Linked DNA regions of Homo sapiens. The protein of the gene in region 1 purifies or fractionates together with the protein of each later gene. This does not show direct contact. Each region holds a gene or a part of one and is shown in the gene's direction. Other genes may lie near its edges.

The links.
Region 2: the proteins of PEPD (region 1) and GNS fractionate together in Homo sapiens (co-fractionation; one large-scale study listed by BioGRID). This does not show direct contact.
Region 3: the proteins of PEPD (region 1) and ASS1 fractionate together in Homo sapiens (co-fractionation; one large-scale study listed by BioGRID). This does not show direct contact.
Region 4: the proteins of PEPD (region 1) and FTO fractionate together in Homo sapiens (co-fractionation; one large-scale study listed by BioGRID). This does not show direct contact.

The regions. Positions count from the first base shown.
Region 1 is NC_000019.10:33,410,292-33,413,791, reverse strand, and holds part of PEPD (xaa-Pro dipeptidase), read left to right. Parts: intron 1-148; coding exon 149-217; intron 218-2,042; coding exon 2,043-2,120; intron 2,121-3,500. UniProt on the Homo sapiens protein: Dipeptidase that catalyzes the hydrolysis of dipeptides with a prolyl (Xaa-Pro) or hydroxyprolyl residue in the C-terminal position.
Region 2 is NC_000012.12:64,738,907-64,742,406, reverse strand, and holds part of GNS (N-acetylglucosamine-6-sulfatase precursor), read left to right. Parts: intron 1-1,718; coding exon 1,719-1,801; intron 1,802-2,907; coding exon 2,908-3,026; intron 3,027-3,500. UniProt on the Homo sapiens protein: Hydrolyzes 6-sulfate groups in N-acetyl-d-glucosaminide units of heparin sulfate and keratan sulfate.
Region 3 is NC_000009.12:130,499,368-130,501,774, forward strand, and holds the end of ASS1 (argininosuccinate synthase), read left to right. Parts: intron 1-137; coding exon 138-203; intron 204-1,608; coding exon 1,609-1,654; 3' UTR 1,655-1,907; downstream 1,908-2,407. UniProt on the Homo sapiens protein: One of the enzymes of the urea cycle, the metabolic pathway transforming neurotoxic amonia produced by protein catabolism into inocuous urea in the liver of ureotelic animals.
Region 4 is NC_000016.10:53,819,156-53,822,655, forward strand, and holds part of FTO (alpha-ketoglutarate-dependent dioxygenase FTO), read left to right. Parts: intron 1-3,500.

The DNA.
Region 1 (3,500 bases):
CACAGACTCACACTGAGAGTTTGGACCATTGTGGGGCCACGGCAGGGGAGACCATGGGCCGAGGGCCTTCCCTTGGGGTTCATGGGGCTCGTGGAGTGGGGTGTGCCTGCTCTAGTGCCCCAACCCTGACGCGTCTCTCCCCCTGCAGCCTCTTCGAGCACTACTGCTACTCCCGGGGCGGCATGCGCCACAGCTCCTACACCTGCATCTGCGGCAGGTAAGCGGGGCACCCTGGCTCCCCTGGGGGTGACCAGTGGGAGGAGGTAGGGCAGTTAGTGAGTGGGGGGCTCCACCATCCCCCAGCTCAGCCACACTTGCTCACTCACACGCCCACACCAGCGCCCGGCCCAAGCTTGGAAGTCGCTCCTCCCTCCCAAGACTCCCGGAGCTGAGGTGGCCTCTGCCTGCAGGACCTGGCACTGGGTGAAGGAGGGAGCATGGCCTGCCCACTGCAGAGGGGCTGCTTGGCGTCCCCTCCCTCCTGTCCCCAGCTGGTCAGCACAGCAGCTAAGCACAGGAAGGCCACTCCTCCACACGGGCACACACACAGCATGTGGGGACCGGGCTGTGAGCTCAGGCTGGGCAGCTTCTGTGTGCAGCAGGGGTGGAGTGTGGAAGGGTCAGTGCAGAAAGTGGTGGTGGTGTGTCTATGTGGGTGTGGCTGCGTGGGGACCAGTGCTGCTGTATGTGGGTGTGCATGTCACTGTTGGTGTGCCTGCTCGTGGCACATGGTGCCGAGGGGCAGGGCTCTGTGTGGGTGTGTGCGCTTGGGTGTGTGCCATCAACACCTGGCTGGGTGTGCTTGGAGGCACACACATGGTAGAAATGACAGTGATATGGGATCATTGCCATGCTGTGTGGGCCATGCACAGCGGCATGTGTCCCTTGGGGTGTGTCTGCCCCCACATGCGTCCTGGCTGTGGGCGTGGCCCCCTCGTCTCCTGCGCTCTCCCAGCCAGTCTCCCTGCTCTCTGCCCCTCGGGTCTGGCCCCTGCCCGGCCAGGATGGAGCCAGGCAGCTCTGCCAATGCGCACGTCCCCGGCACATGAATAATACATGTGAAATCTCAGTCCTTGGAAATGTTCTTCTCTGGTGGATGGAGAGAAAACCATTATTTCTACTTTTATGATTCCCAAGACTCCTGAGCAGGGCCATAAATATTACACCCAGGTGGGGGTTTCCTTCCCCCCTTTGGACAGACTTAAAAGTCCTTTTTTTCTTAAAGGCATCGCTCATTAGGGAAGCCTTCTCAGGCAGAGGAGCGAGGATCCTCTTGGTTTCCTCTCTCTCCAGCCTGGTCAGGACGCCAGGGCAGCTCCAGGACAGCCGGGGCCCTTTCCATAGAGGCCCTCTCCCCTTTGGCCACCAGGAAAGGAGGGGTTCCGTAGGGCCCTTCTCCAGGCCCAGGAACTGCTGTTCCCCTTTTTTGCTCTTTTTTTAATTTAAAGACAGGGTCTCCCTCTTTTGCCCAGGCTGGAGTGCGGTGGCATGATCATAGCTCATTGCAGTCTCCACTTCCCAGGCTCAGGTGATCCTCCTAGCTCAGCCTCCTGAGTAACTGGGATTACAGCTGTGAGCCACCTAACCCAGCTAATTTTTTTTGCATTTTCTGTAGAGGTAGGGTTTCGCCATGTTGCCCAGGCTGGTCTCGAACTTGTGGGCTCAAGTGATCTGCCTTTCTTGGCCTCCCAAAGTGCTGGCATGACAGGCGTGAGCCACCACACCCGGCCCATTGCTAAGTTTTACATGTGTTCCACATGATGCCCACATCCCAGCCCAGAGGGCAGCCGCCTAACGACGCCTTCAGCCAGGAGGCTCTGCCTGCAGACTGAGGCTGGTTGCCAGCCATGTGACTGCGGGGTGACAGGGCCACCATGTCCCCCGGCCTTACCTCTGGCTGTGGACCTGGTCCAGCCACGCCTGGGCCTGTGCTGGAGGTGGGGACAGTGCTGCTCATGGGCAGGGGATCGAGCATCCACCCCCTCCTTCAGAGCCTGCTGCAGAAGAATGGGCTTTGATCACCCTCCCCCGGCTCTTTGCAGTGGTGAGAACTCAGCCGTGCTACACTACGGACACGCCGGAGCTCCCAACGACCGAACGATCCAGAATGGGGATATGTGGTAAGTAGGGCCAGCGGCCCTGGCTCTGTGTGTGAACAGCCAGGCCAAGGTTGGACTCAACTTCAAGATGGCCCAGAAGCCTCTGGGTCCCTGTCCTGAGAGGGCTGACCACAGCAAGTCCCTGGGCTTCTTGGCCCAGACTTCTCTGCCAAGGCTATCGGCCTGCGTGGTGCCTTCTCCAGGGCCAAAAGCCTGCACCCCCCAGGGAGCACTGAGAGAGAGGGTGCAGGAGAGGGGCCCCCGATGGTTTCCTGTGGGCCATGGGATTGTGGGCTCTCTGAGGGGGCCTGAACCATCCCCAGCCTCTGTCCAGGCTGTCCTCTCCGTTCAGGGGGCACCACGCTCGCATCTTTCTGTCTTGGTGCCAGGAGGGCAGGCCTCTTGGTCTGGAGCTGGGAAGACCGCAGGGAGCCTCCCACGCTCTGAAACCTGCCATCCTCCTGCTGCAGGAGCCCGTGGCCTCTGCGGCCCTGCGTTCAGCAAGTCAGCAGTGCTGACCCGTGGCTGCGTGCAGGGCTTTCCTGAGCACGATGTGCCGTGCTCACAGTTCTTCATAGAAGCCACGACAAGGAGATGTGGGCAGGCCCTGCGGCCTCCGCCCCTCGGGTAGTCTTTTCTCTCATTGGAGGACTTGCAGTCCTACCCACAGCCCCTCGGTGTGCAGGGCAGAGCAGCTGGGCCGCTGCCCCGGGGCAGGGAGGAGGTGTGTGAGTACTTGCAGCCTGGCCTCTGCTCAGTCCCTCCGCGTTCTTTGCCTGTGCCCTGCACGTCAGATGTCAGCCAGGGCCAGCCCAGGCAGTGCAGAGCTCCTGAGAGCTACCCCAGTGCTGGAGCCCTGGGGCTCAGCCACAGCCACGCAGGCCCTGTCTTGGCCTCCAGACATTTCACTGTGGTCACTGACTAGCAGAGGATGTGCCTTGTCCCTCCCAGTTCTTTGGTGCCCTTTCTTCTATGGCAGATGCACCCGAACAAGCCTCCTGCAGAGCCCTCTGCCCCCCAGCAGCATGGCATGTCCTCTGAGGCCTGCGTGGCGCCCAGCTGGGCTGCCTCCGCCTTCCCATCGAGGAGCCACCCCAATGTGCCAGCTCCTCCAGCGGGAGTTCCCATGATGGCTGCTCACCGGCCTGGACCCCGCCTCACCCTACAGCAGGTAGTCGTGGGAGCCCACCCCCCAGAGTCCCCAGCCATGCCCACTGAAGGACAGGAACACACATGCCCAGACCTATGGACAGACAACCAGCTGCCCAGAGAGCTGCCGAGCGTTGAGCTGTCAGGGCCGAGTATTTGCAGGAACACACTCAGTCTCGGGGTCCTCCCTGCCCTTGGGCACATGGCCTACTGAGACTGCCCGGGCTCCCCGCTCACCCAGGTCCATAGCTG
Region 2 (3,500 bases), on another chromosome or scaffold:
ATTAGCATATTGTCTGGCACATTATAGGCATGTGCTTGTTAAATACAGTTTCAAAGCTGAGTGAACTGTGTTTTAAATTAGAGTACTGGCCGGGCGCAGTGGCTCATGCCTGTAATCCCAGCACTTTGGGAGGCCAAGGCGGGCGAATCACGAGGTCAGGAGATTGAGACCATCCTGGCTAACACAGTGAAACCCCATCTCTACTAAAAGTACAAAAAATTAGCCGGGCGTGGTGGTGGACACCTGTACTCCCAGCTACTCGGGAGGCTGAGGCAGGAGAATGGCGTGAACCCGGGAGGCGGAGCTTGCCGTGAGCCGAGATCGCACCACTGCACTCCAGCCTGGGAAACAGTGCAAGATTCCATCAAAATAAAATAAAATAAGATGAGATGAGACAAGATAAGATAAAATAAAATAAAATAAATTAAAAAATAGTAAAATAGGACGATTCTCAATCTGTGTTCCAAAAGAAGTTAATAAAAAGTTCCCATGGTCAAGTAAGTTTGGAAAGTTTGAGTTAAATAAGTCACTCTGCTACAGGACTTCTCAGAGTTATTCATGATCGAATGTGAATTTCTAGCAGGAGAATATGCTATACAGCATTTCTCAAACTTAATAACACTTTGAGGAGCATAGTTTGAGATCTGGTGGCTTAGGGTTTTACGAATAGAGAAGAGAGAATAGTATATAGGGATGTCTTTGTTTAAATGGGAGGGCCCTCCAGATTTAGACTTGAAGTTTTAGGAAATTGCTGTAATAAGATTTTTCCTTAGGATCTAGGGTGACCGATATCTTGGCTAGGCAAAACTTAGAGGAAGGTAGACCAGGTATGGTGGCTTATGCTTGTAATCCCAGCACTTTGGGAGGCTAAGGCAAGAGGATCACCTGAGGCCAGGAGTTCAAGACCAGCCTGGCGAACATGATGAAACCCCATCTCTACTGAAAATACAAAAATTAGACAGGCATGTTGGTGCACGCCTGTAATCCCAGCTACTCAGGTGGCTGAGGCATGAAAATCGCATGAACCCGGGAGGCACAGGTTGCAGTGAGCCGAGATCGTGCCACTGTACTCCAGCTTGGGCTTGGGCTGGAGTGTAGTAGTGCGATCTCGGCTCAATGCAACCTCCGCCTCTGTCTCAAAAAAAGCAACTTAGAGGAAGGTAAAGTTATTTGCCCATTTTCTTTTTTTTTTTTTTTTTTGAGACGGAGTCTCGCTCTGTCGCCCAGGCTGGAGTGCAGTGGCGGGATCTCGGCTCACTGCAAGCTCCGCCTCCCGGGTTCACGCCATTCTCCTGCCTCAGCCTCCCAAGTAGCTGGGACTACAGGCGCCCGCCACTACGCCCTATTTGCCCATTTTCTAATTGTAGTAGACCAAAGGCATAAGATCAGAGTTGTAAATGTAATCTCGCTTTAGCTAGTAGTTTCCCAGTGACATCCTCTAAAATCTCTTAATACTGCCAACAGAGAAGCCAAGACCTTTTATGGTTTGGGAGGTGCTGGGAAGCTGAAGAATGAGAGATTGAGTTAATCTACAGAAATTTCTATTTTAGGAACACAGGAAGGGAGAGAAGTTCTGAAATTGCTTAAACAAGTTCCAGTTAGTTCCTTCTTGCTGAAGTATGAGTGAAACGGTTCTATTTATTATCTACTGTAGTAATCCAGTAGTTTGTTTGACTGTGGTGACTTGGTGTTAACATTTTTTTTCTTCTAAATTTTAGAACAAGCACTGGTTAATTAGGCAAGCCAAGACTCCAATGACTAATTCTTCAATACAGTTTTTAGATAATGCATTTAGGAAAAGGTAAGAGCTGCTGCTACATAACAATCTGAGTGGTTTTAAAGACCCTGCAAATCAGCTCATGAAGAGGAGACCACACCACATTGTTGTCTCTGAAACAAAAACAGAGGGAAGCAAGTCAGTGGGAGAGAGGCTTCGATGGGGCACCAGAAGCAGAGAGATTCCTTTACACTCAAATGAATGAGGTGGCATTTGGACCCCAGTACTAATTAGACTGCCCATTTTTAGGACTTGGCAAAAGTCTTGCAAACTTGAACCATGTGGTAGAATTTTTTCTCCTGCTTTAAAGAAAAGGTGACTTGGTTGAGAGAGCCCATTGTCATATGTGACAAATGACCCAAAAGCTTAGACAAGATCAAAATATCTGCCTTTGCCATTTGGAATTTTCAAGAAATTCTCTTAAGTCAATTTTTAAAAATCCATTACTTTCTCTTAGGAAGTGTTTAGTGTAGACCAGGGATAAGCAAACTTTTTCTGTAAAGGGGCAGATAGTAAATATTAATAGGCTTGCAGGTCATACATTCTGTCACAACTACTCAGCTCTGCTGTTGTAGCACAAAAGCAGCCCTGGGTAACATGTAAATGAATGAGCATGGTTGTGGTCCAATAAAACTTTATAAAAACAGACAGTGGGCAAGCTTTGGCCCATGAGTCATAGCTTGCCAGCTCCTAGTTCAAACATCTTAAGCTTTTTTGTAGCACAGTCCTATCTGAATTAATCTGTAATACACAGTACTGAGAATGGACAACTCTTCCTTCCGATTGTCTCTACTCTCATCACTATTGCCAATAAAAAGTAAAGCTAACTGGTTATTTAAAAACGAGTTTATTTCTTTGGAAACAATTAACTTTGGAATGAATTAATTATGTTCTGGAATTTTCTAATCTGTTTTTTACAATGGGAAGGTCTAGGGAATGGAGATTGGGGATTTGAGTTTTGGGGGAGAGTGTTTTGCAATTTTTTTTTTTTAAACGGGGGTTGTTTTGGATTTTTTTTTTTAAACGGGGGTGTCTTTGTTTTTGTTTTTGGTTTTTTTTTTTTTTGGCAAGATAGTGATACCTCAGCCATTGCCCCTGAAGTCCCATTTCTACCTTCTGTTCACATCCAGGTGGCAAACTCTCCTCTCAGTTGATGACCTTGTGGAGAAACTGGTCAAGAGGCTGGAGTTCACTGGGGAGCTCAACAACACTTACATCTTCTATACCTCAGACAATGGCTATCACACAGGTCAGAGGCAGGAGTAGGTACTGCTGTGATCTTTGAGAATATGTCTTTCCTTTTTCACCCAATGAGCCCTGGGAGGGAGTTCTAGTCTTTTTATAACTGTGGACATGCCAGAGGGAGGATCTTGCCCTCAGGACCCCTCCAGTTGGAGCACCACATCATACCCACGTGGAGAAACCAGGTTTCATTATTTGCTGTTTCACATGCAAGATGACATGGTGTTCTAGGAGTGGGAGCAGAGCATGAGCTTGATGGGTTGGAGGCAGGCCGTATGGAAGGCATTTGAGATAGGAAGACCAAAAGGAGGTTGTCTTGGGAAAACTTTCTTGCCATTCATGGAATTTGTTTTTTGGGTGTTTTTGTTTTTTTCAAAAGCTGCAGGATGAGTCAGCTCTGTGTCCTTGACTTTCATGCTTTCTGCTTGGACCTTCTGTTGTTAAAAGCAAATGTTTTCTTCTTTCCACATATATAAATGTC
Region 3 (2,407 bases), on another chromosome or scaffold:
GTGCAGGGAGGGTTTGGACCCACACAGGGGAAATGCCCTGGCATCTGGGAGGTGGGGCTGCTTCTGGCCCCAGCAGTCCTCCCTTCAAGCAGAGGCCAGGGCCAGGCTGAGCTGACAAGCTTCTACTCTCCTTGCAGCATGAACGTGCAGGGTGATTATGAGCCAACTGATGCCACCGGGTTCATCAACATCAATTCCCTCAGGTGAGAAGCTCAGGGCCCTGACGGGCCTTCAGAGCCTCCAGGTGTAAAGGGTAGGCTTTGAGAGCCCCCAGGTGTAAAGGGTAGGCTTTGATGCGACCTTGACTGCTGCCCTGCCCTGCCCTGCCCTGCCCTAGACAAACCCCACTTTCCTGTCCATCTGCCCATAGCATCCTCAGAAGCATGCTTTGATAGCCGACAGTAACAGAGGGTCCTAGGCATTGGGGTCCTAGGTTCCTGTGTCCCACCGGGTGCCTCTGATACTTGCCCTCCCCTCCCGCTAAGCCACAGGGACTCCACTATGAGCTCCTTTGCAGGGCAGGTTAAACAAGGAAATAGCATAGAGGTGGAGAGAAGCCTTTGTTTTCTGTCACCATACCTGAGCTGTAGGTCTAGCTGGAAGCCATCCTAGCCACGTGGATCTCCATGGCCCAGGAGGGTGGTGCACGTCATCTGAAGTCACTCAGACCTTTGATCCTCTGTGAGTCACCAGTAAGAGTGTCAGCTGTACCTGCCTCACAGATGCAGTGAAGGTTCAATATGAGCCTGTGGAAATCAAGCATGCGGCTCAGGCTTAGACCCTGGCATGCAGGAAGAGCCAGGGGCAGTGCCAGCAGCAAGCACACTCAGCCCAGGGCCGGTGTGCTCAAGGGCAAACAGGGTCGTTTGTCACCAGCAGCTAACATAGACTAAGCTGCTCTGGGACACTCTCCTAGGATGTCTCATTTAATTCTTACACAAAATTTGCAACTCCCCGGGAACAGGCTGAGTGGTTAAGTAACTTTCCAAGGGTCACACAGCTAGGAGGTGGTGGAGCTGAGTCCGGAGGGCCTGTCCTGCTGTGGGTTCTCCATCACCAGCTCCCTTCTCATGGGGATTGGAGTCTAGAAGAAGATGCAAGTCAGTCTCCTCTTGCTAACAACATGCCCTGGGCACAGAGCCATCATTTTCTCCCAGAGCCAGTCTCTTGTCCCTGGAGGCACCTCATGCCCCGAGAGATGTTGAAGCCCGCCCATCTGCCCAGGGTCCTCTCCCTTCCCCTCCGTCACCTCCACCTCCCCTGCCTCCTGCGCCCTCTGTTTGTATTTTATGACTCTATAAACCCTTTTAAATGGCCCAGAACAAACAGGGCTTACATAGTGGCCTCTTCATTTCTCCTATTGCCAGTTAAACGCTTTGTCTTCAACAATGACAAACAATGTTTTCCCCCTAAGATAAATTAATTACATTATCCTGATTGGAGGGCAGGAGGGGCCAGGGCGGGAGAGGGAATAGAAAAAAAGGCAACTTCACACACATCTTAACAAACAGCTGCCCCAGCCACCCCAGCTCTGCCTGAATTAATTGAACCCAGTGTGTGTTGTTATTGTTAATTTACATTTTTCTTTGTTTTGAATCTGGTTTACAGGCTGAAGGAATATCATCGTCTCCAGAGCAAGGTCACTGCCAAATAGACCCGTGTACAATGAGGAGCTGGGGCCTCCTCAATTTGCAGATCCCCCAAGTACAGGCGCTAATTGTTGTGATAATTTGTAATTGTGACTTGTTCTCCCCGGCTGGCAGCGTAGTGGGGCTGCCAGGCCCCAGCTTTGTTCCCTGGTCCCCCTGAAGCCTGCAAACGTTGTCATCGAAGGGAAGGGTGGGGGGCAGCTGCGGTGGGGAGCTATAAAAATGACAATTAAAAGAGACACTAGTCTTTTATTTCTAGTGAGTGTGTGTGTGTGTGTGTGTGTGTGTGTGTGTGTGTGTGTGTGTGTAGTTAATTATGGTTTTCTTAGGCCAACCTTTGTGTTTTCGGACCTAAGTGCTGCCGAAGGCCGCCATTTGCCAGACAGCCTGTTAATCTGGCAGTCGACCCCTCTCCAGCAAAAACTAGGAATCCAGAAGTGCCGCCTGGGTCCGATCCTAGCCAGCATCCTGGGAATCTGTCACCAACTGTGGTCCTGTGGCAAATGTCAGGAAACCAAATAAAATTCAGGGAATGCCCTTTGGGGGCATCAACGCACAGCCCTTTCTCTGGACATCACTTTTACTCACAGCCCACAGGGAGCTTCTATAGAGGGTGGCCATGAGTGACCCTAGGACACTTACCACAGCTGCATGGCCTAAAGCAGCCTAAATCATGAAGGAGGAGGGAGAGGCCTGAGCAGAGAGGAGAAAAGAGCAAGCCCGGAACTTGGCAGCATTTCTCATTGTCCACAAACCAG
Region 4 (3,500 bases), on another chromosome or scaffold:
ATATATTTTCCAACTTTGATACAGTTAATATTTATTTATTTATCTATCTTTGAAATGGGGTCTCACTCTGTGGCCCAGGCTTAGGCTCACTTCAGCTTCCACTTCCTGGGCTCAAGCCATCCTTCCACCTCAGCTGCCCAAGTAGCTGGGACCACAGGTGCATGCCACCACACCTGGCTAATTTTTTTGTATTGTTAGTAGAGAGGGGATTTCACCTTGTTGCCCAGGCTAGTCTCGAGCTCGTCAGCTCAAGCAATACACCCGCCTGAGTCTCCCAAAGTGCTGGGATTACAGGTGTGAGCCACCACGCCCAGGCAGTTAATTTTTTTATGTGCTAAGAGGCTTCTCTATTAATTTGCTTGTGAATGGGTGTGTGTGTGTGTATTTAAATTTTTAATGGTTCTGCATTAATGTTTCTGCATTCCTGCCATATAGGTTGTACTTTTTTTTTCCAGTTTGTTTGCCTTTTAATTTTATGATTTATTTTATACAAAAATTTAAATTTTCAGATATTCACATCTATCAATCTTCTTTTTCAAAAAGTTTATTGATTAACTGTATATGTGTATAATTTACATACCATAAAATGCACGTTTTGAAATTGTACAATTCAGTGATTTTTGGTAAATTTCCAGAGGCATACAACCATCATCACAGTAGTTTTAGAACATTTTTAGCACCCCAAAAAGATCTCTCATGCCTCTTTACATTTAGTTTTCTTTCCTGCCCCAGCCAAGATCTCCACTCATCTGCTTCAGTCTTTTAAAGCTTTTATTCTTAGAAAGGAGTCTTGAGCACTTATGTGGAACCAAGTGATGTGGCTATAACAGATACTAATGCTATTTTCTTCTTCTTCTTTTTTTTTTTTTTTGAGATGGAGTCTTGCTCTGTCACCCAGGCTGGAGTGCAGTGGTGTGATCTCGGCTCACTGTAACCTCTACCTCCCGGGTTCAGGTGATTCTCCTGCTTCAGCCTCCTGAGTAGCTGGGATTACAGATGCCCGCCACCACGCCCAGCTAGTTTTTGTATTTTTAGTAGAAACAGGGTTTTACCTTGTTGGCCAGGTTGGTCTCGAGCTCCTGACATCAGATGATCCAGCTGCCTCGGCCTCCCAAAGTGCTGGGATTACAGGTGTAAGCCACCGCTCCAGGCCACTAGTACTATCTTCTTTTAGGAGCTTGTGATCTTACAGGACAGATTATTAAACTAATAATAGTTTAAATAAATATAGTTACAAATAGATAAGTGCTACAAAAGAGAAGTAAAGCGTGGGGAGTGATAACAGAGGGCACCTATTTGAGGGTGGAGATTCAGGAAAGGTTTCCTTTTTTTTTTTATTATACTTTAAGTTTTAGGGTACATGTGCACATTGTGCAGGTTAGTTACATATGTATACATGTGCCATGCTGGTGCGCTGCACCCACTAACTCATCATCTAGCTTTAGGTATATCTCCTGATGCTATCCCTCCCCCTCCCCCCACCCCACAACAGTCCCCAGAGTGTAATATTCCCCTTCCTGTGTCCATGTGATCTCATTGTTCAATTCCCACCTATGAGTGAGAATATGCGGTGTTTGGTTTTTTGTTCTTGCGATAGTTTACTGAGAATGATGATTTCCAGTTTCATCCATGTCCAGGAAAGGTTTCTATAAGAAAATGACCCAGGGATGGGAAGGACCATCCAGGTGTGGAGTTGGGGGAGGAGCCTGGGGGAAGTATTTAAGAGCTGGACACTTGAGGACTGCAGGAATAGAAGCACATATGGTCAGAGAGAAAGGGGACATGATCTGAGTGGGAAAAAAATGGAATATTTTCCCATGCCATTATTTTCTTTTTATGCTGTTTTTTATGTCAAGGTATTTACAGATGATATTTATGTGGTTATATGTTTTTCCTGGTCTATAGGGTTATAATTTCCCCATATTAAATATATCTTATGCAGTGTTGAGACCCAGTGTATGTTGAATAAGGGCAGCAGAATTTTAATGGGGGGTGGGCAGGCGTTTGTGCATATGAGTGCATTATTTTCAGTATTCCTTTCTTAGTCCCAGAGGGGAGTGTGTTCAGAAACAGAGTTCTTGGGAATTACCATACTTTTCTTTATTGTTTTATACTAAGGACCATTCAGAGAGTACTGGAGGTGTTAAGACAGTGTGAAGAAATTACCTTCTTCATCACTTCTTCATCATTGCTTTGAGTATACTGGGGCCTCAGGGACTTGCTAAGAAAGTAACCAGTATAGTGATAGAATTAGAGTTGCTGCTCATGGCTTCAGAATATTTGGTCTCTGCTTACAGGATTGCATTGCTTTCTTCATAAGCTATGTAAATAGAAAGTACGATATCACTGTTTCTGTTTTCCAATGGGGATAACTAAAATATGGAAACTCAATCCTTAATGGATCCCTGACAATCTCAATGACAATCCATAGTGGTATGCCACATGACTCTTCTCTTTGTCACTTTCAATTCATGGTCAACACCTCAGATAGGCATTTTGAGAAGCAGGGCAGTCCTACCACACTTACCTAGTAAAGTCATTTTTTCACATTCAGACTTGACTCATTCATTTTTCTTCTGCATACTTCCTCCCACTTTCTGCATGTCTTCTATAATATCTCCTGCACTCTGCCTCATTCAGAACAGGCTAGATTATGCTATAGTAACTGATAACTCTCAAATCTCAGTGGCTCCACACAATAATATTTCTTGTCCATTTTATGTATCATTTGTGGGTTGGCACAGAGTCACTACCCATTAAAGTAGCTCAGAGATCCAAGCAGCCACCAGCTGGTTGCTGTGGCAGAGGGGTGCAGAGTATGCTGGAGGGTCTTGCAGTGACAATGACATGTTCCAGGCTGGAAGGGATGGCCATCATTTTTCACTGGACAGAAGTAATCCCATGTTTCATCCATCCTGAGGGGACCAGGAAGTGTAATTTTACACTGGGCCCAAAAAGCTGGGTGGCAGAGGAGGAATCCAGAACTATTTGGCAAACAGCTCTAATGACCAGCATACATTCTTAGCTAGTGATTCACCTTAACTTCATTGAGAAAGTCAGAGCATTCTCTAACTACCACCCCTCCAAAAGAAACCCTAGAACGTACTCATCTGCCTACTATTATTACATTTATCATCCTATCTGAATTCATACCTTCTTTTTCCTTCTAGCCTATTCCAATATAAGAAGTATCTTCTCTCCTATCCACATATTTTTGATCACATACTCTTATCAGTAGATAAGCACATACAGTGACATCCTAGAAAGTGTTTAACAAGTGGCCTGTAGGGGGAAAGAACCAGCCTTGATTTTTAGTGTTTTTTGATTTCCGCAGTGTAAATACTCTCACTGTGGACAGTTTCAAGCCACCGTCACGGTGTTACTGAATGTGCAGTTGGAAAGAGATGCACACAGTGGGCTCTCATGAGCCAGTGTGGACTGACTCCAGCACACCACCAGTAGTGTGCTGGTGGTAGTACTCATGTACTCGTGTCTGTTTT